7 linked regions of the Homo sapiens genome follow. The protein of the gene in region 4 purifies or fractionates together with the protein of the main gene of each other region. This does not show direct contact. Each region holds a gene or a part of one and is shown on either strand. Other genes may lie near its edges.

The links.
Region 1: the proteins of TMEFF1 (region 4) and ZDHHC5 purify together in Homo sapiens (affinity purification with mass spectrometry, with the first as the bait; 3 studies listed by BioGRID). This does not show direct contact.
Region 2: the proteins of TMEFF1 (region 4) and THNSL1 purify together in Homo sapiens (affinity purification with mass spectrometry, with the first as the bait; 3 studies listed by BioGRID). This does not show direct contact.
Region 3: the proteins of TMEFF1 (region 4) and SLC39A11 purify together in Homo sapiens (affinity purification with mass spectrometry, with the first as the bait; 2 studies listed by BioGRID). This does not show direct contact.
Region 5: the proteins of TMEFF1 (region 4) and DHRS2 purify together in Homo sapiens (affinity purification with mass spectrometry, with the first as the bait; 3 studies listed by BioGRID). This does not show direct contact.
Region 6: the proteins of TMEFF1 (region 4) and METTL9 purify together in Homo sapiens (affinity purification with mass spectrometry, with the first as the bait; one large-scale study listed by BioGRID). This does not show direct contact.
Region 7: the proteins of TMEFF1 (region 4) and PRDM10 purify together in Homo sapiens (affinity purification with mass spectrometry, with the first as the bait; 3 studies listed by BioGRID). This does not show direct contact.

What each region holds. Positions count from the first base shown.
Region 1 is NC_000011.10:57,692,114-57,695,613, reverse strand, and holds part of ZDHHC5 (palmitoyltransferase ZDHHC5), read right to left. Parts: intron 3,004-3,500; coding exon 2,912-3,003; intron 1,832-2,911; coding exon 1,699-1,831; intron 1-1,698. UniProt on the Homo sapiens protein: Palmitoyltransferase that catalyzes the addition of palmitate onto various protein substrates such as CTNND2, CD36, GSDMD, NLRP3, NOD1, NOD2, STAT3 and S1PR1 thus plays a role in various biological processes including cell adhesion, inflammation, fatty acid uptake, bacterial sensing or cardiac functions.
Region 2 is NC_000010.11:25,023,112-25,026,611, reverse strand, and holds part of THNSL1 (threonine synthase-like 1), read right to left. Parts: intron 3,437-3,500; 5' UTR 3,389-3,436; coding exon 1,157-3,388; 3' UTR 1-1,156.
Region 3 is NC_000017.11:73,082,689-73,086,188, reverse strand, and holds part of SLC39A11 (zinc transporter ZIP11), read left to right. Parts: intron 1-1,342; coding exon 1,343-1,381; intron 1,382-3,500. UniProt on the Homo sapiens protein: Zinc importer that regulates cytosolic zinc concentrations either via zinc influx from the extracellular compartment or efflux from intracellular organelles such as Golgi apparatus. May transport copper ions as well.
Region 4 is NC_000009.12:100,476,149-100,479,648, reverse strand, and holds part of TMEFF1 (tomoregulin-1 precursor), read right to left. Parts: intron 1-3,500.
Region 5 is NC_000014.9:23,642,752-23,646,139, forward strand, and holds the end of DHRS2 (dehydrogenase/reductase SDR family member 2, mitochondrial), read left to right. Parts: intron 1-400; coding exon 401-468; intron 469-1,359; coding exon 1,360-1,411; intron 1,412-1,657; coding exon 1,658-1,792; coding exon of another isoform or gene 1,793-1,803; intron 1,804-2,075; coding exon 2,076-2,131; intron 2,132-2,390; coding exon 2,391-2,502; coding exon of another isoform or gene 2,503-2,551; 3' UTR 2,552-2,888; downstream 2,889-3,388. UniProt on the Homo sapiens protein: NADPH-dependent oxidoreductase which catalyzes the reduction of dicarbonyl compounds. Displays reductase activity in vitro with 3,4-hexanedione, 2,3-heptanedione and 1-phenyl-1,2-propanedione as substrates.
Region 6 is NC_000016.10:21,606,077-21,609,576, reverse strand, and holds part of METTL9 (protein-L-histidine N-pros-methyltransferase isoform 1 precursor), read right to left. Parts: intron 1-3,500. UniProt on the Homo sapiens protein: Protein-histidine N-methyltransferase that specifically catalyzes 1-methylhistidine (pros-methylhistidine) methylation of target proteins.
Region 7 is NC_000011.10:130,000,036-130,004,335, forward strand, and holds the start of PRDM10 (PR domain zinc finger protein 10), read right to left. Parts: upstream 2,801-4,300; 5' UTR 2,687-2,800; exon of another isoform or gene 2,589-2,686; intron 1-2,588.

The sequences.
Region 1 (3,500 bases), on a different chromosome or scaffold from region 4:
GTCTCGCCATGTTGCCCAAGCTGGTCTTGAACCCCTGGCCTCAAGCAATATCACCCCACCTTGGCCACCCTAAATGTTGGGATTATAGACATGAGCCACTGCCTATCATATATTTCTCAACTATACTGGAAGACAAGGCACAAGAATCAGTTTGGGTATAGCATTAGATGAAGAAAAGTTGGGTTTTTTTTTTTGAAATGGAGTCTTGCTCAGTCACCCAGGCTGGAGTGCAGTGGCGTGATCACGGCTCATTGCAACCTCTGGCTCGCAGGTTCAAGCGATTCTCATGCCTCAGCCTCCCAAGCAGCTAGGATTACAGGCATGTGCCACCACACCTGGCTAATTTTTTTTTGAGATGGAGTTTCGGTCTTGTTGCCCAGGCGGAGTGCAATGGCATGATCTCGGCTCACTGCAACCTCCGCCTCCCGGGTTCAAGCAATTCTCCTACCTCAGCCTCCCAAGTAGCTAGGACTACAGGCATGCGCCACCATGCCCAGCTAATTTTGTATTTTTAATAGAGACAGGGTGTCTCCATGTTGGTCAGGCTGGTCTCGAGCTCCCAACCTCAGGTGATCCACCCACCTCAGCCTCCCAAAGTGTTGGGATTACAGGCATAAGCCACTACGCCCAGCCAGAAAATTTTTCTATTTTTTATTTTAGTCTGTTTTAGAGATGGAGTCTCGCTATGTTGTCCAGGCTGGTCTTGAGCTCCTGAACTCAAGCGATCTTCCCACCTCAGCCTCGCTAAGTGCTGGGATTATAGGCATGAGTTACTGTACCTGGCAGAAGAAAGGGTTTAAAAAAGGTTTTAATTCTGTCACTTATTTGCCCATTTAAACCAACAACTACTTGTTTAGCTCCTACCATCTAGCTGTAAGCTGTTAAGTCCTATGAAGACATGGAAATGAATGAATTCATTTTCTATTGTTAATGAACTTAAAGTCTAATGTAGGGCCGGGTGCAGTGGCTCACACCTATAATCCTAGCATTTTGGGAGGCTGAGGGGGTTGGATCACTTCAGGTCAGGAGTTTGAGACCAGCCTAGCCAACATAGGAAAACCCTGCCTCTACTGAAAATAAAAAAATTAGCCAGGCGTGGTGGCGCATGCCTGTAGTCCCAGCTACCCAGGTGGCTGAGGCACGAGAATCGCTTGAACCTGGGAGGCAGAGGTTGCAGTGAGCTGAGATCATACCACTGGAGTCCAGCCTAGGTAACAGAGCAAGACTCCCTCTCAAAAAAAAAAATCTAATGTAGAAAACAAGATTTGTATTTAAGTAATTTTAACCCAAATTAGTAAGTGATAAACACTGTAAGAAATATGGGCCAGGCGTGGTGGCTCATGCTTGTAATCCTAGCACTTTGGGAGGCCGAGGTGGGCAGATCACCTGAGGTCAGAAGTTCGAGACCAGCCTGGCCAACATGGCAAAACCCCATCTCTACTAAAAATACAAAAATTAGCCAGGCAAGGTGACGGACACCTGTAATCCCAGCTACTCGGGAGGCTGAGGCAGGAGAATTGCTTGAACCTGGGAGGCAGAGTTTGCACTGAGCACCACTGCACTCCAGCCTGGGCAACAGAGCAAGACTCTGTCTCAAAAAAAAAAAAAAAAACACAAAGGAAACTAAAGCAAGCTTCCGTCTCTTTGCCTTGGGTGAGACTTCCATGTTATCTAGCTTGACTTCTCTAAATTCCTCACCTTTGTTCTCCTCAGCTCTCCCTGGATGCCATTATCCATGATCTTCACAGTTATCTGCCCATCTGAAACTTCTGGTCGAAGGAAGGGAGGTCTGATTACAATTGTCTTCTCTTTCTTTGGTCTCCCCAAATACCTAAGTGTCGAGAGAGAGAGAGAGAGAGACACAGCGAGAGAGCTTTCATTCATTTATATTTTAAAGTATCTACTGTTTCTGTAAACCATTTTTATTAGGTTGGTAAAAAAGTAATTGCAGTTTTGGCCATCACTTACTTAGCAATAAACAGAATTGATTCTGTGAAGGACTGCAGCAGGACTAGGCCTTTGTGAGCAGATACCTAGCTCAAGGAAAGCACTTTAGAGTGTATCTTATTCACCCTCAATTCTCAAAGATTTACCTTAATACCTGAAGAATATCAATGGAATTCACAGTGTCCACTAAAGCAGGGGTCCCCAACCCCTGGGCCGCAGACCAGTACCGGTTCATGGCCTGTTAGGAACTGGGCCACATAGCAGGAGGTAAGCAGTGGGCCAGTGAGCATTATCACCTGAGCTCCATCTCCTGTCAGATCAGCGGAGGCATTAGATTCTCTTAGGAGCGCAAACCCTAGAACCCTGTTGTAAACTACACATGCAAGCAATCTAGGTTGTATGTGTGCTCTGAGCTCACTGCAACCTCTGCCTCCTGGGTTCAGGCAATTATCCTGCCTCAGCCTCCCAAGTAGCTGGGATTACAGGTGCCTGCCACCTTGCCCAGCTAATTTTTGTATTTTGAGTAGAGAAGGGGTTTCACCATATTGGCCAGGCTGGACTTGAACTTCTGACCTCAAGTGATTCGCCCACCTCGGCCTCCCAAAGTGCTGGGTGTGAGCCGCCACACCCAGCCATGAGAATCTAATGCCTCATGATCTGAGGTGGAACAGTTTCATCCTGAAACCACCCCACCCCAGCCCCCATCTGTGGAAAAAGTGTCTCCCATGAAACCGGTCCCTGCTGCCAAAAAGGTTAGGGACCACTGCACTAAAGGATGGGCATGTAGGTACTTACCATTCTAAGATAGACTACTTACCATTCTAAGATAGAGTGGGTACTTAACATTCTAAGATAGAGAACCCTTCCTAAAGGCTCTCACCAGACCCCTCCTTTACCAGAACAAGCCCAAAGAAGATAAAAGTTCTGACCAATGGTAAACACTAGACCAGAGGGATAGGTGTACCTGGGTGCTGGAGAACTGCAGAGAACACGGCTGACATTGTTACAGCAGCCATTGGTGAAGGGGTTCACACCTCCCCGGAATTTACCCGTAACCTAGAGGGAGAAAAAAAATACCAGGTTAGAAGATGAGACCTTGACTTCCAAAGGCCAAAATACAAATCTATTACAAGTTATTGTGCACTCACTATCTGAGGGCTATGCAAATGAGTAAAACACAAGAAATTTATATATGTTATGGTTAAGAGCAGGGAATCTACAGTCAGGGTCCTTAGTTCAAATCCTAGGTCTACCTCATGGTTGCTGACCCAAAACCTCAGTTTCCTCATGTAAAATGGGATAGCTTTCTAAATATTGAAAACTAAGATAAAGAATAAGCAATTAAGGGCTGGGCATGGCAGCTCACACCTGTAATCCCAGCACTTTGGGAGGCTGAGGCAGGTGGATCACCTGAGGTCCGGAATTTGAGACCAAACTGGCCAACATGGCAAAACCCCATCTCTACTATAAAAATATATAAAAACTAGCCGGGCATGGTGTCAGGCACCTGCAATCCCAGCTACTTGGGTAGCTGAGGCAGGAGAATTGCTTGA
Region 2 (3,500 bases), on a different chromosome or scaffold from region 4:
ATAAATCATGGTTAAAATGTATTACTACAAAGGAATACAAATTAAATATGTGTATCAGTTGTGTGCAGTTTCAGCTGCCAGAAAAAGACAATGTTCACTGAAGAAATAAACAACAAATTACGTAAGAATTGACTCCAAATAATATAGGGAAACTGCTGTCTACAAATACACTCCTATTGAGACTACTCAAGTACTCTTAATTTTGGAAAACCTTCCTCTTGAAATAGATCATTTCTGTATTCACTTCTAAGTAGTTCTGCTTACTGTTTCATCCTGGATTTCAGTTATGTGTTGATTTTCAAACATCGTCACCCTAACCGTACACATCCAAAGGAGAGTGAAGGACAGAGTACATCTTTAATTTGGACAGTGTGAGATACACATTAGTTGTAGTCCAAAATGGAATTTGAGGAGGGTTAAAAACACTGGCCCTAGCCAGGTGCAGAGGCTCACGCCTGTAATCCTAGCACTTTGGGAGGCCGAGGTGGATGGATCACCTGAGGTCAGAGGTTCAAGATCAGCCTGGAAAACATGGCGAAACCTCATCTCTATTAAAAATAAAAAAATTAGCCATGTGTGGTGTTGCATGCCTGTAATCCCAGCTACCTGGGAGGCTGAGGCAGGAGAATCACTTGAACCTGGGAGGCGGAGGTTGCAGTGAGCTGAAACTGCACCAAAAAACAAACAAAAAACACTGGCCCAAATCCTAATAGAAGAGTTTACTACTTCCTCCATTCAAGTTAGCCATTTTGAGTGGTAAATTAACTTTCTAATCAACAGAGTATTCACTAGTTACAGATGTAGTACCTGAAAACTGGGCTTAAATATTTTAATCGCCAAATAGTATACCAGACATTTTGGTCCACATAACAGTGAGGGTGTGGGAGTGGAAATTGATACACCCCTCATGAGCAGAAGGCAAAAGTATGATAGCTCAAAGGTCCGTGCACTGTGTTACCTTTTGTCACTTCCAGATTAAAGATCTGAGGAGGTGACATGGAGTTCTCATGTCAGCCCTAGAGATCAGACTTTTGAAATTCCAAACAGATATAGAGATATTTACATAAAAGACAAAATGCTACTGTACTCCAAATCAGTGTTTGAGATTTATTATTGCATGCTTATAGCTAGAAAAAAAAATTTACTCTGAAAGCTTTCATATGAATTGATTTTGGACAAGTTGTTCCACATGACTCTTCAAGACATTCATATCAGCTGCACAGACCTGGTACTCCATCTTCTCTTGCTGTTTTGTTCTCTCTAATAAAGCCTCATGCAGTGGAGGTAATGCATTGTATGAACCCAGCAAATAGAGCTGACTTGATGAAGTCTCATTGATTTCTTTAATCTTTAAAGCCTGCATGATAGCAGGTGCAAACTTTGAGTAATGGGCTGTAGATGAGATAATCACAGGGCAAGTTTTGTCTTGCACCCTATCTGCAACCACTTTTGCAACAGCAGTGTGTGGATCCAAAATATACCCTGAAGTATTATAGGTGGAGTTAATAGCTGCTAGGCACTCTCCCTCAGAGCACCAGTCAGCTACAAAATCCTGCTGAAGTTTCTCAACTAGAGCCTTTTCTATCTGGAAATGATGCTGACTTTCTAATCGATTAAATAATTCTGTCATTAGCTGTCCATCTTTATTAGCCATCAAGTGTAAATGTCGTTCTAGGTTTGAAGATTTGAGAATATCTATTGACGGTGAAAAGGTTTGTGCTAGTTTTCTTTCCCTTAGATCATAATGTCCTGTTTTTATAAAATCAGTCAAAACATGGTTCTGATTAGAGGCACAGATAAATTTTCGAATCGGGATTCCCATCATTTTGGCATACACTGCTGCTAAAATGTTACCAAAGTTTCCTGTGGGAATACAGACATCGACTGGGCTTCCAAAAGAAATAAATCCTTGACTAACAAGATCAAGATATGCGGAAGCATGATAAACTACCTGCGGAAGTAGTCGGCCCCAGTTTATGGAGTTAGCCGAACTTAAGATTGTTCCATATTCCACAGTAAGAAAGCCAGTAAAATCAGAATCATTAAAAATTCTTTTTATAGCTGTCTGGCAAAAATCAAAATCTGACTCAACACCCACTGCCCATCCATTTTCTCTCTGACTGCCAATTATTTGTGCTTTTTGAAAATCACTTACTCCATTCTCAGGAAAAAATGCAACCACAGCTATCCTTTGCTTATCATTCTTATTTAGACGACTAAAACCATTTAAGACTGCACTCCCTGTGTCTCCTGAAGTAGCTACAAGTATCATATAATTGCAACTTGGTGGGATACAGTGTGCAAAAATATGAGGCATAAGCTGTAAAGACAAATCTTTAAATGATCCTGTTGGTCCATGAAACAACTCCAGGATGAACTGGTTGCCTGAAAGGTGCCTGACAGGAGCAATTTTTGAGCAGGCAAAGTTTTCCCCATAAGCAGTTTCAATCATTTCTCCCAACCTGGCAGCAGGTATGTCTGCAGGATGGATACATCTTTCCAACAGTATCTGTGCTCTTTCTACGTAGGTTGCTCCTACTAGGCTTTTCCACTCCCCGCAGCTTAATTTTGGAAACTCCTTTGCAGGAACAAAGAGGCCACCATCAGAAGCCAACCCCTCAATTACAGCTTCACTAAAGAATTTTGCTGAAACCTTCTGTTCACAGTCTTCAGGCCAAACGTGTCTTGTTGAAATGAATGTTTCCGAGTCCACATCTTGGTATCTTTTAATTGCATTCAGCACTTTGTCAGCTACCTCCTCTGGGGAAGCCCCACTTTCACAGAAAACACGAGCATCATACCACTTCTTATAATACTGTCTTCTAAATTTAAGTAAGTCTTTCATAGATGTTCCAGAATTCTGACCTACAATCCTATCTGTCTTCATTAATTTTAGACGACAAATTAGATCTAGTAGAGGTACATCCAGGTATACAATTATTCCATTTTTCTTCAGATGCCACATGCTAGCATCATGCATTGGATTGGACCCAGTAAGGGAAATCACACTTCCAGATGCAGAGAAGTTTAACACAGCTTTTCCTTCCTCTTCTAAAAATTGCTCATTACCAACATCCTGTAATTTTTCAGACACACTCATATTCCAGGTTTTTTCAAGGATATCATCATCCACATCTATGACACAACAACCTAGTTTCTGACCTATTATTCTGCCTACTGTTGTTTTCCCAGCACCAGGAGGTCCCATCAGGATAATATTTTTGTCTCCAACAAGAGAGTGGGTTGAATACCATGACTTCCTCAATTCCGCAAGTGCAAAGGTTCTTGAAAGAAATCGCTGTGCATGTTTATCCGTTTTAACATGTATACTAGAAAAACATTTCTGTGTTATCTTTTTCAGATGATGACATCGGTTAAAGTGGAGCATTCTCTTTTCACTTTTCTGCCCAAGCCAACCTAAAAATTGGCTTTAGCCCTTTTCAAAACACAAAACAAACAAAAAACAACAAAAGATAATTTGGTTACTAATTACAGTAGAT
Region 3 (3,500 bases), on a different chromosome or scaffold from region 4:
AGTACCAGCTCCTCACCTCACAGCCCCTTCCAATCAGGAGCCTTCAGTCTCCCTTCCAATCTCACCATCCCCAACCTTTACTCCAAGGGTCATCTCCCATGTGATCTCTAACAGCACGGATATTTTCCCTGTTTCTGTGCTTTATTTAGATGGAGTAATCATATAGTACGTACTGTTCTGCATCTGGCTGATTTTACCCTACTTGTTTTCCAGTTTCTTTAATGTCCCTGTCTGTTTGTAAGATGTAACTGTAGTATGTGTGTGCGTTCCCATCGCCATTATGGTACCTGTTGTATGAGTGTATCCTAGTTAACATATCCATCCTACTGTTGGTGAGAGTTTGGGTAGTTTCTAGTTTTGGGCTCTTAGCACTGCCGAACATTTTTCTTCATGGGTTTGTTGAATACAAGTGCATTCCTGTCATGGGATTACTCAGGAGTGGCACACATAGTGTTCACCTCTCATCGGTGCTGCCAAATAGTTTGCCAAAATGGTGGTACCCGTTTGCACCGCCATTGTGTGAGGGTTTTTTTTTTTTTTTTTTTTGAGGCGGAGTTTTGCTCTTGTTGCCTAGGCTAGAGTGCAATGGCATGATCTTGGCTCACTGCAATGTCTGCCTCCCGAGTTCAAGGGATTCTCCTGTCTCAGCCAAGTAGCTGCGATTACAGGCATGCATTACCGTGCTTGACTAATTTTTGTATTTTTAGTAGAGATGGAGTTTCACCACGTTAGCCAGGCTGACCTCAGATTCCTGACCTCAGGTGATCCACCTGCCTTGGCCTCGCAAAGTGCTGGGATTATAGGCATGAACCCTTGCACCCAGCCTATTTTTTTTTGTATTTTTAGTAGAGATGGGGTTTCATCATGTTGGCTAGGCTGGTCTTGAACTCCTGACCTCAGGTGATCTGCCCGCCTCAGCCTCCCACAGTGCTGGGATTACACATGTGAGCACTGTGCCCGGCCTGTGTGAGGGTTTTGATTGTTCCACCTGCTCCTCTGCTCCTCACCAACGCTCAGTAATTCCCAACTTGTAGACAGGCTACTTACTAAAGGTTTACAGTTGTAATTCACAGGGAAAGCTGAGTAAGAGACAACACAAGGGCCAAGACAAGCCAAGCACCACTTGAAAGAACGCTTCTGATTGGCTATGGGGTGGGTGGAAAGTTAACCAAAGACTTTCCCCGTGGTTCTTGGCCCATGGTATAAACTGAGTAGCTCACGAGCTCAGGAGTCGGCCAGTCTTTATTTGCGTGGCTCTTTTGGGCCTTATGGTTTCTTCTTGTCCCAGGAAACATCATCTTATTGTCTCTTGGAAACTGAAACATCTTGTTTTGATTTTCAGAGGCGGATCTTAGATGGAAGTCTTGGCTTTGCTGCAGGGGTAAGTAGCATGTAGTAGGAGAAATGGAAATTGAGGCATACTGATTCTGACATGTGTCTGCCAAGGGCTGTCTTCAGTCCCTCCCCTTGCGACCTAGATGCATCTCTGTGTTCCTCAGGCACTAACACCTCCCTCTTATCACCTGCCATATTTATTTCCCAGCTTATCAAATGCCCATTTCTCTTTAGACAGCAATCGAGGTTTATTTGACAGCTGCCTCAGGACTAGGGAAATAAGATCTTATTTGGTAAGGGCCTAGCACAGGCCTAGCCTAATACATAGTTGGCTCTAACTAAATATACTTTTTCCTCCCCTTCTCCCTTAAAAGATCTTTTTTATAGGCCTTTTTTTTTTTTTTTTTTTTTTTTTTGAGACAGAGCCTTACCCTGTCACCCAGGCTAGAGTACAGTGGCACAGTCATGGTTCACTGCAGCTTCAACTTCTCTGGACTCAGGTGATCCTCCCAACTCAGCCTCCCAAGTAGCTGGGACTACAGGCATGTGCCAACGTGCCTGGCTGATTTTTGAGTTTTTGCAGAGATGGGGTTTCACCATGTTGCCCAGGCTGGTCTTGAACTCCTGGGCTCAAGTGATCCACCTGCCTAGGCCTCCAAAAGTGCTGGGATTACAGGCGTGAGTTATGGAACCCAGCATATTATAGACATTGTTAAACATGTAAAAATTGTGGATAGAAGCCTGTAATGCATCCCAGACACCCATCTCCCAACTTCAATCATTATTGACATTTTGCTAATCTCAGTTCACCTGTCCTCCCCAAAACTTCTTGGGAGGTTAGAATATTTTATAAAAGCTAATCCCAGATGACATGTAATTCCACCTGTAAATTCAACACACATGTCTAACTGAATGACTTTTTAAAAATAAACATAATCACATGGCCATTATACCTACCAAATTAATAATTCCTTTTTATGATCTAACATCCAGTCCATATTCAGATTTTCTTCATCTTTCTAAAGGTGTCATCTAATATTGTTTTGTTATAATTGGGGTCCAAACAAGGTTTCTATATTGCATTTGCTTGTTATATCTTTTAAGTCTCTTTAATTTTTTAACAGTTCATTTTTTTTTTCATGCTAGTAATTTGTTGGAGAAACTGGGTCATTTGTCTCTAGAATGTTGGCTGATTACTTCCTCGTGGTGCTGCCTAACTTGTTCCTCAGTCCCCTGTATTTCCTGTAAGCTGAGAGTTAGACCTGGAGTCTTGATTAGTTCAGATTCCATTTTTCAGGCATGAAGATGTCATGGTGCTGTGTATTGCAGATGTATTACCCATATCAAAAGGCGTGTAATATGTGGGTTTCCCTTTTAGTTGATCAGGGTTTGGTTTCTTTCTTCAGTTTTTATAGCCCTGCGATCTGGAAAAACTAGCCTGGAGGTGGAGCCTGCCAGAGGCCATCTGAGTCAGTAGCTGTTAGACTGGAGCCACTGTTCCGTCAAAAACACTGTCCTTTCTGAGCCATACACAGGTGCACAGAGAGTGTTGAGAAAATTAGTTTCTAGGTCCTCAGCTTCCATACGTTCTCTTCCCTATAACTGCTGTGCCTGAGAATGCCGGGGAAGCCAGCCCTACTTTCTTTCCTTCCTTGGCACAGCTTCCCTTTCCCACCTTACACAAGAAAGATGCTCTTGCCTTATAACCTTGTCTCTGGGTGGCATGGTCTTCAGGCAGACATGGAGGGCCCCTTGGAATGTTGGTGCTGGCACGGAGAAAGTGAAGGGCCTTGTCTCTAATCACTGGGCATAAGTCCATTTTTTTTTTTTTTTTTTTTGAAATGGAGTCTCCCTCTGTTGTCCAGGCTGGAGTGCAGTGGCTGGATCTTGGCTCACTGCAACCTCCGCCTCCCGAGTTCAAACAATTCCCCTGCTGCAGGCTCCCGAGTAACTGGGATTACAGGTGTGCACCACCACGCCTGGCTAATTTTTTTTTTGTGGTTTTAGTAGAGATGGGGTTTTGCCGTGTTGGCCAGGCTGGTCTCGAACTCCTGACCTCAGGTGGTCTACCCAACTCGGCCTTCCAAAGTGCTGGGATTACAGGTGTGAGCCACCATGCCCGGCCCACAATTCCTTTAGCAGTTCTGATGTGATCCTGTCCTTTG
Region 4 (3,500 bases):
GGAAAGAAGCCAGACACAAAAGAACACACCTCATATGATCCCATTTGCATGCATATCTAGAATAGGCAAATCCATAGAGAGTAGATTAGTAGTAACCAGGGACTGGGGAGGCGAGGAATGTGGAATGACTGTTAATAGCTATGAGGTTTCTTTTGGGGGTGATGAAAATTTTCTGGAATTAGAGAGTGGTGACAGTCGTACAATTTTGTGAATATATATAAATCCACTTAACTGTACCCCTTTTAAAAAATCCTATCTTGTTCGTGCTCAATAAATGCTTATTGATGGGGACTGCTGTAGGGAAGCAAGCCCAGATGTGGTAAACAGAAACTTCCACTATATATATCTGTAAGAGGCTAACCACCTCTATAAGATTATAAGGCCCTTGAAAGCAGGGAAGCCTTCTCATATATTTCCCTTAACATCCAGTATATTAGATTACACTACGCAGTATTCAATCAAGGTTTGCTAAATTAATTATTATCCATCCACATTTTACACAACAGGGATCTAGAAGATAAAAGCCCTGCCCGAGATTCCCCATTAATTAGAAAAACTCACTTTTATTCCCAAGAATCCTGAATTGCCACAAATAAGGCACTTCTCATAATCTGACATTTATATCGTCCATTAATACCATTCCTACCACCATATAATAATCCAGAGGACCCACTTCTAGTTAAAACCCATTTCAAATTCTCTACCTTATATCTATCACGAAATGCCACTTACTGGTCTCTCAGTATGTTCTTCTACCTCTTTAACCATATTCCCTAAGCTAGAAATGCCCCACATGGTTAGTCTCATTTGTTCTTCTCAAATATCCCAGAGCCAAAAAGGACCATCATCATCTTCATTTCACAAATGAAAAACAAAGTCAGTCAGTCTAAGGTTACCTGGTCTCCTAAATTCAAGTTTATCTTTCTTCACATATGTCATGTATTTCCAAGCTTTTTTTCTCTTTGGATAACTGGGAACTTTCTGTTAAGTTAGCTTTAAAAAAAAATAAGCATAAATAAAAAAGATATAAAATCGAAGTTTTTCTTTTAATCTCAATAAGTCTAAAGTCCAGAATAAGTGGAGAACTGGGGCAAGAGGACAACAAAAGAAGTCTTGTTCCAGCCTGGGCATCATGGCGAAGCCCTGTCTCTACTAAAAACACAAAAAATTAGCCGAGTGTGGTGGCACGCACCTGTAGTCTGAACTACTGAGGAGGCTGAGAATCACCTGAGCCCAAGAAGCTGAGGCTGCAGTAAGCTGAGATTGCGTCACTACACGCCAGCCTGGGCGACAGGAATGAGATCCTGTCTCAAACAAACAAACAAACAAACAAAAAAGTCTTGTTGAGAACAAGAAGAGATAAACCAAAGGCCCATTGCTTAGGGAAGATGCAATATCAAGAGACAACAGGGCCAATTCCCTATGCTTCATCTTCATCAAGAAGCATGATCTTCAAGCTAGGGAGGTCAGAAATCTGATAAAAGGAAACCAGCTTCTAAGGTAAGTGGCATGGGTAGGGGACAGTAACAGAATACAGAGCTAGTTCAAAAGAATATGCTTTCTGATCCAAATAACTCACACTCCATGATGCTGAAAAAACTTTTACATCTGCCTTAAAAACTACCACAAATTATCTAAGCTACCTTGACAAGGTGCCAGAAGACCAGAAATCAAATAAATAGAAATAAACACATGCTCAAATTTCAAAAAAGGAGAAATGCAGGCCGGGCGCAGTGGCTCATGCCTGTAATCCTAGCACTTTGGAAGGCCGAGGTAGGCGGATTGCCTGAGCTCAGGAGTTCGAGACCAGAATGGGCAACACAGTGAAACCCCATATCTACTAAAATACAAACAATTAGCCGGGCGTGGTGGTGTGCGCCTGTAGTCCCAGCTACTCGGGAGGCTTGAGGCAGGAGAACTGGTTGAACCTGGAAGGCAGAGGTTACAGTGAGCCGAGATCATGCCACTGCACTCCAGCCTGGGCGACAGAGCAAGACTCCATCTCAAAAAAAAAAAAAAAAAAAAAAAGGCGGAATGCAGATCCAGAAAAACATCTGTGGGTAAACCTGCTATGTAACTGCTGAAAAATTCTAAAATGGATAAATAAGTTTTCGAATACAGTAAAATGAGAAAGCCACCATCAGCTCTTTATTAAGGCAGGCTATACAACATGTGCTTTTTATTTAACAGGATTACTAAAATGGAAAAAGGGAGGATGACAGGATGATATATACACATAACAATCTAACAAGACAATCTGAAAGAATCTTTTAAATAATAGGCTGGTGAACAAAATGGGAAAATGTTGAACAGCAGAAGCTCGAAAATCTGTTAAATTCAACTAACAGGATGCATAGCTAGTTGAACATCTGGTTGACTAACGTAACAACATCAACCAAGTTGGTAGAAAGTCTCCAGTAATATGTCGCAGGGTTCCATCCTTTTTCACAATCTAGACAACTTCTATTAATTTAATGAAGCCATAGAACTGCTCTTCATATTTGCAAGTGAAAAAAACCTGTGAGTGACCCAACACGCACAGCCTGACCGAATCAGCTCCAGAAAGCTCACAGTAGGCTGAAATGATGGTCCAAAACCAAAAATGAATATCTACAGGGAATCGAGGGCTGTATTTAGTTTTAAAACTGAAATAGGCCGGGCGCGGTGGCTCACGCCTGTAATCCCAGCACTTTGGGAGGCCGAGGCTGGCAGATCACGAGGTCAGGAGATCGAGACCATCCTGGCTAACACGATGAAACCCCATCTCTACTAAAAATACAAAAAATTAGCCGGGCATGGTGGCGGGTGCCTGTAGTCCCAGCTACTGGGGAGGCTGAGGCAGGAGAATGGCGCGAACCCGGGAGGCGGAGCTTGCTGTGAGCAGAGATCACCCCACTGCACTCCAGCCTGGGTGACAGAGTGAGACTCCGTCTCAAAAAAAAAAAAAAACGAAATAGGCCAGGCACATTGGCTCACACCTGTAATCTCAACACTTTGGGAGGCCGAGGCAGGCGGATCACCTGAGGTCAGGAGTTCAAGATCAGCCTGGCCAACATTGTGAAACCCCATCCCTACTAAAAATACAAATTAGCCCGGCATGGTGGTGGGCGCCTGTAGTCCCAGCTACTCCGGAGGCTGAGGCAGGAGAATCACCTGAACCCAGGAGCCAGAGGTTGCAGTCAGCCAGGATTGCGCCACTGCACTCTAGCCTGGGTGACAAAGTGAGACTCCATCTCAAAAAAAAAAACATGACAGAGTAAACTTCAGTTTGTGGGGGGATACCTAGATAATAAAAGCTACTAAACAAACTGTGCACAATTTCGAGCTGCATTAACAGATGTGTGTGTCCAGACTGTATTAACATGGTTCTCAAACTTACCAACTAAAAAAATTTTTTTTCCATATGAATCGTTCCCAAATCTTCATCCTAAAAAGTTACAATAAGAATCTACAAGTATCACTTAGTTAAAACTCTAGCTTTAGACCCAGTTATTCAAGTA
Region 5 (3,388 bases), on a different chromosome or scaffold from region 4:
GAGACAAGGTCTCACTATGTTGCTCAGGCTGGTCTTGAACTTTTGGCCTTGAGTAATCCTCCCACCTTGGCCTCCTAAAGTGCTGAGATTACAGGCATGACCCACTGCCCCCAGTCCCCATTTTCTTTAAAAGGCCTGAACATTTCCTTCCTCGTGTCAGTCCTGAACAATTCACATTTTCAGGGCTCTGCTCACAGGCCTGTGACTTAGCCTGCCTGCCTATGAAACCATTAGCAAATTGGAAATACCTCTTGCACCAGTCAGAAGGGGGATTGGTTTCTCTTATATGCACATACATTGGGTCTACTGCACAAATTACAGGGCTCCAAGTGTCTTATGAGAGCAGGACTTGGGCTGACCATGTCTCTCTGCCCTCACCCATGCTCTGCTCTGATTTCAGATCCTAAGTGTGAACGTGAAGTCCCCAGCCCTGCTGCTGAGCCAGTTGCTGCCCTACATGGAGAACAGGTATGGCAGGGCGGGGGTGGGGACCAGTCGGAGTTGGGGACCTGAGGTGGGCACAGAAATACAGTCGGTAGCACAGCCAGTAGTGGGTAGAGGACAGAAGAGGTCTGGGATCTCCACATCCCTCATCTTCTTGTCCTGCCTCCCCATCTGTGTGGCTGCCATTCCCAATTCCAGTGGCTGCAGGATGAGAGTAGTATTCCAGGGGCCCAGGCATAGCCTCCTTGGCCTTGACATCAGCAGGTTTGGGACAAGGCTATGCTTTAACTCCTTGACCTTGTGGGCTGGTCATTGTCACCTTACCTGCTCTCTGTTCTTACCAACTTAAAACCAATGACAGGGTTAGCCCCATTCCTCTCCATAGGAAAAAGCCTGTCCCAGACCTCTCCTCATGCCTGCGCTTGGTCTCCAGGGACCCTGCCTGTGTTCCAGGTCCTGCAGATCTGACTGTACCCCTCACAGACACACCCTTAGGAACTGGCCAGGGGCTGTCTTCAGTAGAAGGAAAGTTCCTGACTGTCACTTCTGGTCTCCCTTACCCCATCTGCTCCTTAGAGGTTGCTCATTGATAGGCACTCACCATCAGCCTTGGGTGCCTCTTCACAAAGCCCACCCTGCCCTCTCCTTCAAGCACCTGGCAAGAGAGGAAGCAGAAGATAAGGGTTCTGAGCATGGACATCGTATTTATGAGAAATAGGCATGGAATCCTAGCTCTGCCGTGTATTGGCTGGTACTAAACCTTTCTGAGCCTCAGTTTTCTGAACTCTGAGATGGGGACAGTAATAGGACCTGTGTTGCTTCTGTGAGGGTTGCATCATTTAATGAACTCATGATAGTGTCACCATCAGTGGTAAGCTCTTAGCTTCAGCTTCTCTTATGTTTGTCTTGTCTCAGGAGGGGTGCTGTCATCCTGGTCTCTTCCATTGCAGCTTATAATCCAGTAGTGGTAAGTGCTTGGTCCTTGTGCTCCTGAGTGGTATAGGGTGAGGGGCAACTTTGTTCTTTTCCTCAGAGCCTTACAGACAAAGTGCCTGGGACAGACCCCCACCATCCTCCTGCTGCCCTGGGCTGAGCTTGTCTCCATGTGGGTGGGAGGGCTGCTGGGCCTGTGAGATCCCTGTAGGTGAGAAATCCAACTGATGCTTTCCCCCACTCTCCCATATCCTAATCACTCTGTCAATTCCCTTCCCAGGCGCTGGGTGTCTACAATGTCAGCAAGACAGCGCTGCTGGGTCTCACTAGAACACTGGCATTGGAGCTGGCCCCCAAGGACATCCGGGTAAACTGCGTGGTTCCAGGAATTATCAAAACTGACTTCAGCAAAGTGGTGAGGATTGGGTGTGTCTTCCATCTCCCAGTCTGGCTCAGTGGGAACCCTTCCCAGTGAATAAGGGATCAAGGGGTGACTGAATCCTTAGGTCAGCATGCCTATGACTGAGGTCCTCATTGTTCTCTGAACTCAGCCATGGTGCAGTCCATCCATCCTGAAAAGATGCTCCTTCTTTTGAGAAGGGCAAAGCTGCCCTAGGTGTTCTGCCTGGTGGCCTTCCCGGGGCCCTGCCCATCTTGTTTTAGTAGCACTGACTCCTTCATTTCTTCCCTTTGCCCAGTTTCATGGGAATGAGTCTCTCTGGAAGAACTTCAAGGAACATCATCAGCTGCAGAGGCAAGTGGGGTTTGGAGATTTGGTGGTCCATGTGTGGCTAGGCAGGGGCAGTTGAGTCTATTGCAAGAGCAGACCCCTCCCTGTCATCTGGCCATTGTTTTTGCTGAAATCTGGAGTCCACATGGCCCTGGAGGGTGCAAGTAGCCCTGCTGCATCCACCTTGTTCCCCATGGAGCCCACTCCCACCTGTCATCCGTGAGCCCCAGAGCAGCAGAATCAGAGTACAAGATGCTTGACACTGTGTCCTTCTTCCATCCAGGATTGGGGAGTCAGAGGACTGTGCAGGAATCGTGTCCTTCCTGTGCTCTCCAGATGCCAGCTACGTCAACGGGGAGAACATTGCGGTGGCAGGCTACTCCACTCGGCTCTGAGAGGAGTGGGGGCGGCTGCGTAGCTGTGGTCCCAGGCCCAGGAGCCTGAGGGGGTGTCTAGGTGATCATTTGGATCTGGAGGCAGAGTCTGCCATTCTGCCAGACTAGCAATTTGGGGGCTTACTCATGCTAGGCTTGAGGAAGAAGAAAAACGCTTCGGCATTCTCCTTAGGACTTATCTGCTTGTAGATTTGGCTGATCCAATTAACATGTGGGGTTCTTGGTGTGGGTCTGGGGAGCTGAAGGATTTTATGGAGCTGGTGCTTTGGAGGAATCTTAAGGGAAAGGAGTAGAAGCTCAGGCCTTTGAAGGATTTCAGCTCCTCCTCTCTGTAATTTGTGCTTTAAGCATTTTTTTTCCTAAAATAAACTCAAATTTATCCTCAAGTCTGGAAGCATCTGTCAAGGGTAGAGCCCAGGGCAGCATGGTGGGAAGAGGCCTCTACCGCCAGCTGCCCTGAGCTCGTCGCAGACACACAGAGGCGGGAGTGAGTGTGCTGCCTTGCAGAAGGCTTTGTGTGTGCTCCATTATCTGAACTGGGCCTGCTGGGGGCTCAGCAAGGTGGTGGTGGGTGACAGTGGAAAGATTCTGGGGTTCTCCCAGGGGTCCTCCAGGCTAATACTTCTTAATGTTTTCTGGGCCACACAGGCCTTTGAGAACCCAGAGAAAACAGTTATACCGAATCTTGTGCATAATTCCAGTTAGAGGAGAGTAGTCAGAGCTGAAGTTCCTCTTGGGGTGAACACATGGCTTTCTCAGAAAAGGCCCTGTGTATTGTCCTGAGTCATATTCGGGGGCACCGCCCTCTGTGTATGCATACTGAGGCTCAGCACAGTGGAGGGGGAACAGTGGTCCTCGAGCCATCCGTGGCCCTGAGCACCACTCT
Region 6 (3,500 bases), on a different chromosome or scaffold from region 4:
ACCTGGTTCGTTCAACTTCAGCCTAAATATTTCCTAGGTATATTTTCTTTTCAAAGGAAAATATACCTACGAAAGGCTAGGCTAGGCCCCCTGTTCTAATACCCTTTCATACATCCCATTTGTCCCTTTGGTAATATTTACAATCTCTGAATTGAATAATTGTAGACAATCGCATGTTCAGTGCCTATCTTCCCAGGTAGACTGAGAGCTTCATAAAGGCAGAGAAAATGAATGGCTTCAGTGCCTGGCACAGATACAGACAAACAATAAATGTTCATCAACAGGCAGCCTAAACAGAATTTGGAGTTTCTAACAAAATCCTAGAGGAAACATAAGGATAACCACAGAGATCGCTGCCATGGGGTTTCTGTCAATTTCTCAAACTCTGCAAGGCCTTGCTTAAACCTAATTTTGCAACCAGTGGTTACAGCTACCCACTCACCACAAAATTGCATTACCACAAGCAAGGAAGCAAGCAATGAAGGAAGACACCAACTGAGCACCTATCATGCACCAGGCACCAAGCCATGTGCTTTACATTTCATTTACCACCTTGCAATTTCTGAATAAATGGGAAGCATAGGGTCCCTAAGCAGCTCCAGCTGATTCAAGCTCCTGCTCCAGGTACGTGTTGTTTTATAAGCGTTTCTTTCAAAGAAGCTTCTCTTCACTTAACTCTACCCAGTGTGTCTGCTAAAGAAAAGAAAGCAGGACTATCCTGCCAATTAAACTGAACTACATGTGTGTAGAGAAAAGATAATCTGGTCTAGATAGTAACTAAAGTCCTGTAAGCCAGGGTTTCTCAGCCTTCACACTACTGACATTTGGAGCTAAATGATCCTTTGTTATAGGGGCTGACCTGCACATTGTAGGATGTTCAGCAGCATTCCTAGTGCCTATCCATCAGGTTACAGTGGCACTACCCCAAATGACAGCCCAAAATGTCCCAGGCATTGCCAAATGTCCCCTGGGAGGCAAAACTGCCACTGCTTGAGAACCCATACATGGCCTTACCCACAAAATGTCACTGTACTGACTCTCCAGTAGTGTTTCCCACTATCCCAGCCTAACTATGGTCTAGGGACTCCAGCTGACTGAATTAAAAGATGGACTCGCTGGCCTCAGAGAACTTACATTCCAGAGTGAAAATAAAATCAGAAACCAAGGGAAACAAGTAATGTGACTATGATCTTGGCGAGGAGCTTCAGAGCCTTAAAGGAGCAGTCACCTTGCCCTTAAGGTGAAATACCAAGGACCAAGGAGAGAAAAAATCTGCAGGAACCCCTTTAACCCAATGGGCAGGACTCCTGGTTTCACCTCTCTCCAAACAACCAGCTTAGATAAAAAGCTACGCTAAGCTCGCAGCACTGGGTGGCTTGTCTGTATGCTCCTGTGTACTTTCAAGCAGGTGAGTTCTTTGTTTTTTTTGAGACGGAGTCTTGCTCTGTCGCCCAGGATGGAGTGCAGTGGTGTGATCTAGGCTCTCTGCAACCTCTGCCTGCCGGGTTCAAGTGATTCTCTCGCCTGAGCCTCCCAAGCAGCTGGGATTACAGGCACCTACCACCCCGCCTGGCTAATTTTTGTATTTTTAGTAGAGATGGGGTTTCACCATGTTGGCCAGGCTGGTCTTGATCTCCTGACCTCAGGTGATCTGCCTGCCTCGGCCTCGCAAAGTGCTAGGATTACAGGCGTGAGCCGCTGCGCCCAGCCGCAGGTGAGTTCTTTAAATGTGTGCTCCTTAAAGACTACAGAGACAAAGGTGCACAGGCAAGAACAAAGTACTATGCCCGTTAAATTCACACACTGACAGGACTACACGCCCACTCTACTGTGAGGCTGGACTCCTTGGCTGGAGCCTACCATGTCTGAAAAAGCATCTTATTAGCATCTGCCTTTAAAGCTCACTCAAATGTTGTTTCATCTAAATAAACAAGGGAATCTTTTAAATGACAAATTCTAATCAAATGAGAATGATTCCATTCAGTCATCTGCTGATGCCAAGTACAGAACAGGATGTGATATCTAAAAATTACAGTAAATAGCAATATTCTCCCTACTGGCAACACAACTGCAAAGATACTAATAATTGGCCAGGCAGTAAACAGCCAAATCAGGTGGCTGCCACGCGTTTTGAATGCATGTCTGACAGTATTCGCCAACCGAAGTTATTAAATATTAGGTCATACTGTCTTAAAAATTTCCTGGCTGGCTACGATGGCTCACACCTGTAATCCCAGCAATTTGGAGGCCCAGGTGGGCAGATCACTTGAAGTCAAGAGTTCAAGACCAGCCTGGCCAACATGGTGAAACCCCGTCTCTACTAAAAATACAAAAATTAGCCAGGCGTGGTGGCAGGAACCTATAATTCCAGCTACTTGGGAGGCTAAGGCAAAAGAATCACTTGAACCAGAGAGGCAGAGGTTGTAGTGAGCCCAGAGTGTGCCACTGCACTCCAGCCTGGGCGACAAAGCAAGACTGTCAAAAAAAAAAAAAAAATTTCTCATTAAGCCCATGAACTCCTCCTAATATTTATATATAACCTTGGTTGATGAATCACTCGTTCAAAGTAGGAATGCAATTTTCCTATAAAATTAGATTTGCTAATCAGACCAAATATGGTTAAAAGTTTTTCTGAAATTATTTTTGGAGTTTATCAACTAATCAAACATGTGATATACAACATATCCAAAATACAACATTCCCAAAATACAAAGGATTTAAGCACACTAGCAGAGTCAGAAAGTAATTTTAAAAACTGACTGATTTTAGATGATGTGGTATAATAAAAAATACATATTTGATCTTTGTCCCAGGTTCCTGATAGAGAGTTCCTAAAACCCTTCGGGAATCTCAGGGTAATAAGAGTATCTTTTGTATGCTAACAGGATGACTCCTGATAGGGGTGGGAGACCCAGACAGCTTCAGGATGGGGACCAGGATGTGGGTATAAGGTTCAAACTTTCAGCCCCACCTTCCAATCTCCAAGGATGAGAAAGGAGTTGAAGACTGAGTCTAATCATGCCTATGTAATGACACCCCTAAACTATGGGGTCCTGGGAGCTTTTAGTTTGCTGAATACATTGATATGATGGTTGGGTGGCTCATCAGAGGAAAGAGAAACTCTACACCACCTCCCACACCTCACCCTATGCACCTCTTCCACTTGGCCGTTCCCCAATTGTATCCTTTGTAATAAACCAGTAAACCTAAGTGGTTTATTATTATTATTATTATTATTTTGAGACGGAGTCTCGCTCTGTCGCTCAGGCTGGAGTGCAGTGGCGCAATCTCAGCTCACTGCAACCTCCGCCTCCACGGTTCAAGCGATTCTCCTGCCTCAGCCTCCCCAGTAGCTGGGATTACAGGCACGTGCCACCACGCCCAGCTAATTTTTTTGTATTTTTAGTAGAGACCAGGTTTCACCCTGTTAGCCGGGATGGTCTTGATCTCCTGACCTCGTGATCCACCCACCTCAGCCTCCCATAGTGCCGGGATTACAG
Region 7 (4,300 bases), on a different chromosome or scaffold from region 4:
TTCTAAATTTTTTTTTTTTTTTTTTGAGACGGAGTTTCGCTCTTGTTGCCCAGGCTGGAGTGCAATGGCCCGATCTCAGCTCACTGTAAACTCTGCCTCCCGGGTTCAAGTGATTCTCCTGCCTCAGCCTCCCGAGTAGTTGGGATTACAGGCGCCTGCCATCATGTCCGTCCAATTTTTGTATTTTTAGTAGAGACAGGCTTTCACCATGTTGGCCAGGCTAGTCTCGAACTCCTGACCTCAGGTGATCTGCCCGCCTCGCCTCCCAAAGTGCTGGGATTACAGGCATGAGCCACAGCGCCCGGCTTAAATTTTATGTTTTCTCCAATGATCACGCATTATTCTTAAAACTAGAAGGAAAAACAAAACAGGCAAGCAGAAACTTAGGTAGTGCCAATCAATTTGGGATTATATTGAGTTGTGCTATCCTTTATACCTCCATAACCTCTAAGTAAAAACCATTCAGAGCCCTTGAAGACAGGAACCTTGCTTTTTCTAAAATATATACTCAATTACATTGACATACAATATATGATTAATATGTGGTGGAGCATGCTACAAAATATTAGAAAAACTAAAAATGAATTCTTTGAAAAAGCAAAACAATTTTGCCTTGCAAAACGAGGAACAGCATAGCAGAGTGGGAGCTTACGGGGTAGAAGGCACAAGACATTTGTCTTGATCCAAAACAAACAAAAATGTAATCCTTTCACTAAACGTCCCTGTTCACTTTAAAATGGTTCATTCTGTGTCAACTTCACCTCAATTTATTGTAAAAGTAAACCTAAAGGCCGAGCGCGGGGGCCCATGCCTGCAATCCCAGCACTTAGGGATGCTGCGGCGGTAGGATTGCTTGAGCTCAGCAGTTCGTAACCATCCTGGGCAAAATGATGAAACCCCGTTTCTACAAAAAGTAGAAAAATTAGCCAGGCGTGGTGGTGCACGCCTGTAGTCCCAGCTACTAGGGAGGCTGAAGCAGGAGGATCCCTTGAGCCCGGGAGGTCGAGTCGGCAGTGAGCCAAGATCGCGCCACTGCACTCTAGCCTGGGCAACCAGAGACCCTGTCTCCTAAATAAACCTAGCAAAGTTCCTTTCTAAATACCCCATATTGAATAAACACTGTTTAAACGCTGCTTTGCCCCCAACCAATCCTAATTTTAAAAAAAAATCTTGTTTTCTCTATTCTAGAACAACAAATAAGTACTGCTCATCAAAGTGGAAGCTATTGTGATGCTGGAATGGTAGGAAGATACAAAAAAAATACAATGTAATAATACACCTTCTTGCCTTACAGCGATGGAGGAGTGATAGAAACAAAGAGAACAGGTCAGAAAAAGAGGCCACAAAACAGTCATGAGTGATTCTGCTGTTTTTAATAAAGGTTAAGTACTGCTAAGTTTAGAGAATTTGGGGTGACGAGACAGGCAAGGTTTCAACAGGCAAAGCAGCAGAATTAGGGCACAGGGCAGAGCTGGGTGGGTCTCATCACACATCTAATCCTCGATGACAGCACAAAGCCACCTCTCCTTGTGCTTAAGTGTACACGCACATTGATTGAAAATGCACTAAAATCCAACTCATCCACCAAGCAAGGCTAAAGGCGCGCACACAAATTCAACAGCGCTGCGTTCGCGTGGCTGGAGGGCAGACGGGGAATATTCCATTTTACTTAGTAGAGTATCAACACCTAGCTGCAGGGTTAAACCTGCTTAACAAAAGCTGGCGAGGGGCTGGAGAGGTGCACACCATCAGCCCTCTCCCGAGCGCCGACCGGCCTCGCCCTGCCTCTGCGCTGCACCCTGGGTGCAGGCGGACTGGGGCAGGGCCGCGACCCCGGCCTCGGCCTCCGCCTCCGCCCGGCCAGCCCCGACGCGGTGCCACGGGACAGACCCGCAGGGGCCACCCCACACCCCTGCGGGCCGGCCCCCCGCCCCGGTCCCGGACGCTAGCTTGGGAAGGCAGGCCGGGGGCCCAGCCATCGATGGCAAGTGGGCGGCGCGGCCTCCGCAGACAAAGCTGGGCGCCCCATCGAACAGGACCCTCCGCCCCACGCGCCCGCAACCGGCCAGCCCCGGAGCCCTGCCCGCACTGCCACCCCCAGCCCGGCGCCCGGCCCCCAGCCCCCGGTGCTCGGCTCCCGGCCGGCGGAGACCTGCCCGCCGCGCCCGGAGCGCCCGCGCAACCGCCGCCGCCGGAGCGCGCAGGCCGCCCAACCGCCGTCCCGGCCCAACCAACGCGGGCAGGGGAGGAGAGGTGCGCGCGGCCGGCGGAGCGTGCGAGCCACTCGGGGGTCGCAGGGGGAGGCTGCGCGCGGCGAAGGCAGGGGCGACGAGACGCCGAGGCCGGCGCTGAACGCGGCGCCAGGAGGGCCTGCTGGAGGGGGCCTTGCCCTCTTCCCCTTGGAAGGTGCAGATGGTTTGACCCCCCACCCCGAGTGAGGTGCCTCGTCCCAGCCCCGGCTGGACTGTACCATCGGGCGGTGCCGCCGGGATTTCTCCCCCCCACCACCACCATCAATTCCCCCCCCACCCGGGTCCGCGGTCGGTTGGCCCCGGCCGGGCTCTGAGACGCGGAAAGAGCTGGGCGCCATTTTGGGTGGGACTAAGCAAAGACGAAACACCCTCCCAGTCTATGGGGTAGTCTGGACCCTGGCTTATCTGGTTCCCTTAATCCTTTAGGTACTTACACGACGTTGGGTGAGGGGAGCTGGAAGATCAGCGGGTCCCCGATCCTCTCTCCCTAGGGGTGATAGAAATCAACCCCCCCCGCCACCTCCAGGTGGTTCTTCCCGCCGCAGAGTGGGAGCAGCATAAAAGGCGGGGTCTTATTAGCATAATCTGCCTGGCAACCTGATCTCGACGTTATATGATTGGTTAAACTCTGTAAGCCCCATGCCGTGCCTAGAGACGAGAAACGCTGGGGCGAACTGACAGGCCCAGATTTAGGAGTCATGACGAAGATCCTGAGACGCTTATTCAGTCTGCAGAGAAGCCAAAAGGAGATTCACATAATGGCCCAATGACTGAAGGCCTCTTTATTTCGTGCTCTGCTGTTCGTGTAAAACCCAATCGCAGAGCGGGTCTCAGGCGGCGCTCGCCTGCGTTTCTACTCTCAGCCAATCAGAAAACCCGACTCTTCGCATTGGGGTCAAGCCCCCGCTGCGGCCCGCGTGCTAACGGGGAGGAAGCTTCCAGCTGTGCCTGGGTGTCTCGGGCGCCGAGGGCAGCCTGCGCCCGTGCTAAGCCCGCCTCCCGCGCGCCCGAGGGCCCGGTGTCCCGGAAGACGCGCGGGGGTGAGGCGGCCCTCGCGTCCGCCCGCCCCGCCACAGATTGCCTCCGAAGTGGCCTGGCCGTGGAGCGCCGGCGAAAACCGAACTCCCGCCCGGCTCCCGGAGTCGGGAGCCTGCCGGGGTCTCGCCCTCAGGACCCCCAGGGAGCGGCCGGGCGCCGCCTATCACCCTGACCCACCGCACCTTGAGAGCGCTTTCACTGCGCCTCTTTTTTCTCCTCTACCAATCTGGAAAGGAAGTGAGTGTCATTTCAGACATTGAGAAACATTATTCAACACTGGTTACCCAGTGACTCAGCTCACTCCTTAACCGCAGGCTTCCACATCCTGCTGTCCCTTAAAATTGCCTTCACAAAGGGCAGCCAAGAGCCCAGCTTTGGAGAGATACCCAGCTCCAACTACCCACTGGCAGGCAATACGCAGGGCAGCTAGATGGCAGAGAGACCTTGGACCTTCGGACCTTCGGGGAGCGGTTTTCCCTTCGGTGATATCTACCTTGCTATGTTCGTGATATCTACCTTGCTACGTTATTTTGAAGATTAAGTGAGCTCTTACTTTACCGAGTAAAGTGCTTTGCTTAGCACACTGTCTGGAACTTAAATGAGAAGTACTGACAATATAACTTACAAAAATCCTAAACTATTGCCTGAGAAAAAGAGGGAGACAGGACAGCTAAGCAAAAGACGAGAATAGAAAACACCCACAGCGTGAAAAACTGTAAAATTAACTCAATAGTATTCTCTTTACTGTTTTTTGTTTTGTTTTGTTGTTTTGTTTTTTGATACGGAGTCTCGCTCTGTTGCCCAGGCTGGAGTGCAGTGGTGAGATCTGGGCTCATTGCAACCTCTGCCTCCCGGGTTCAAGCGATTCTCCTGCCTCAGCCTCTCTAGTAGCTGAGATTACAGGCATGCACCACCACGCCCGGCTAATTTTTGTATTTTCAGTAGAGATGGGGTTTCCCCATGTTGGCCAGGCTGGTCTCAAACTCTAACGTCAAGTGATTCTCCCGCCT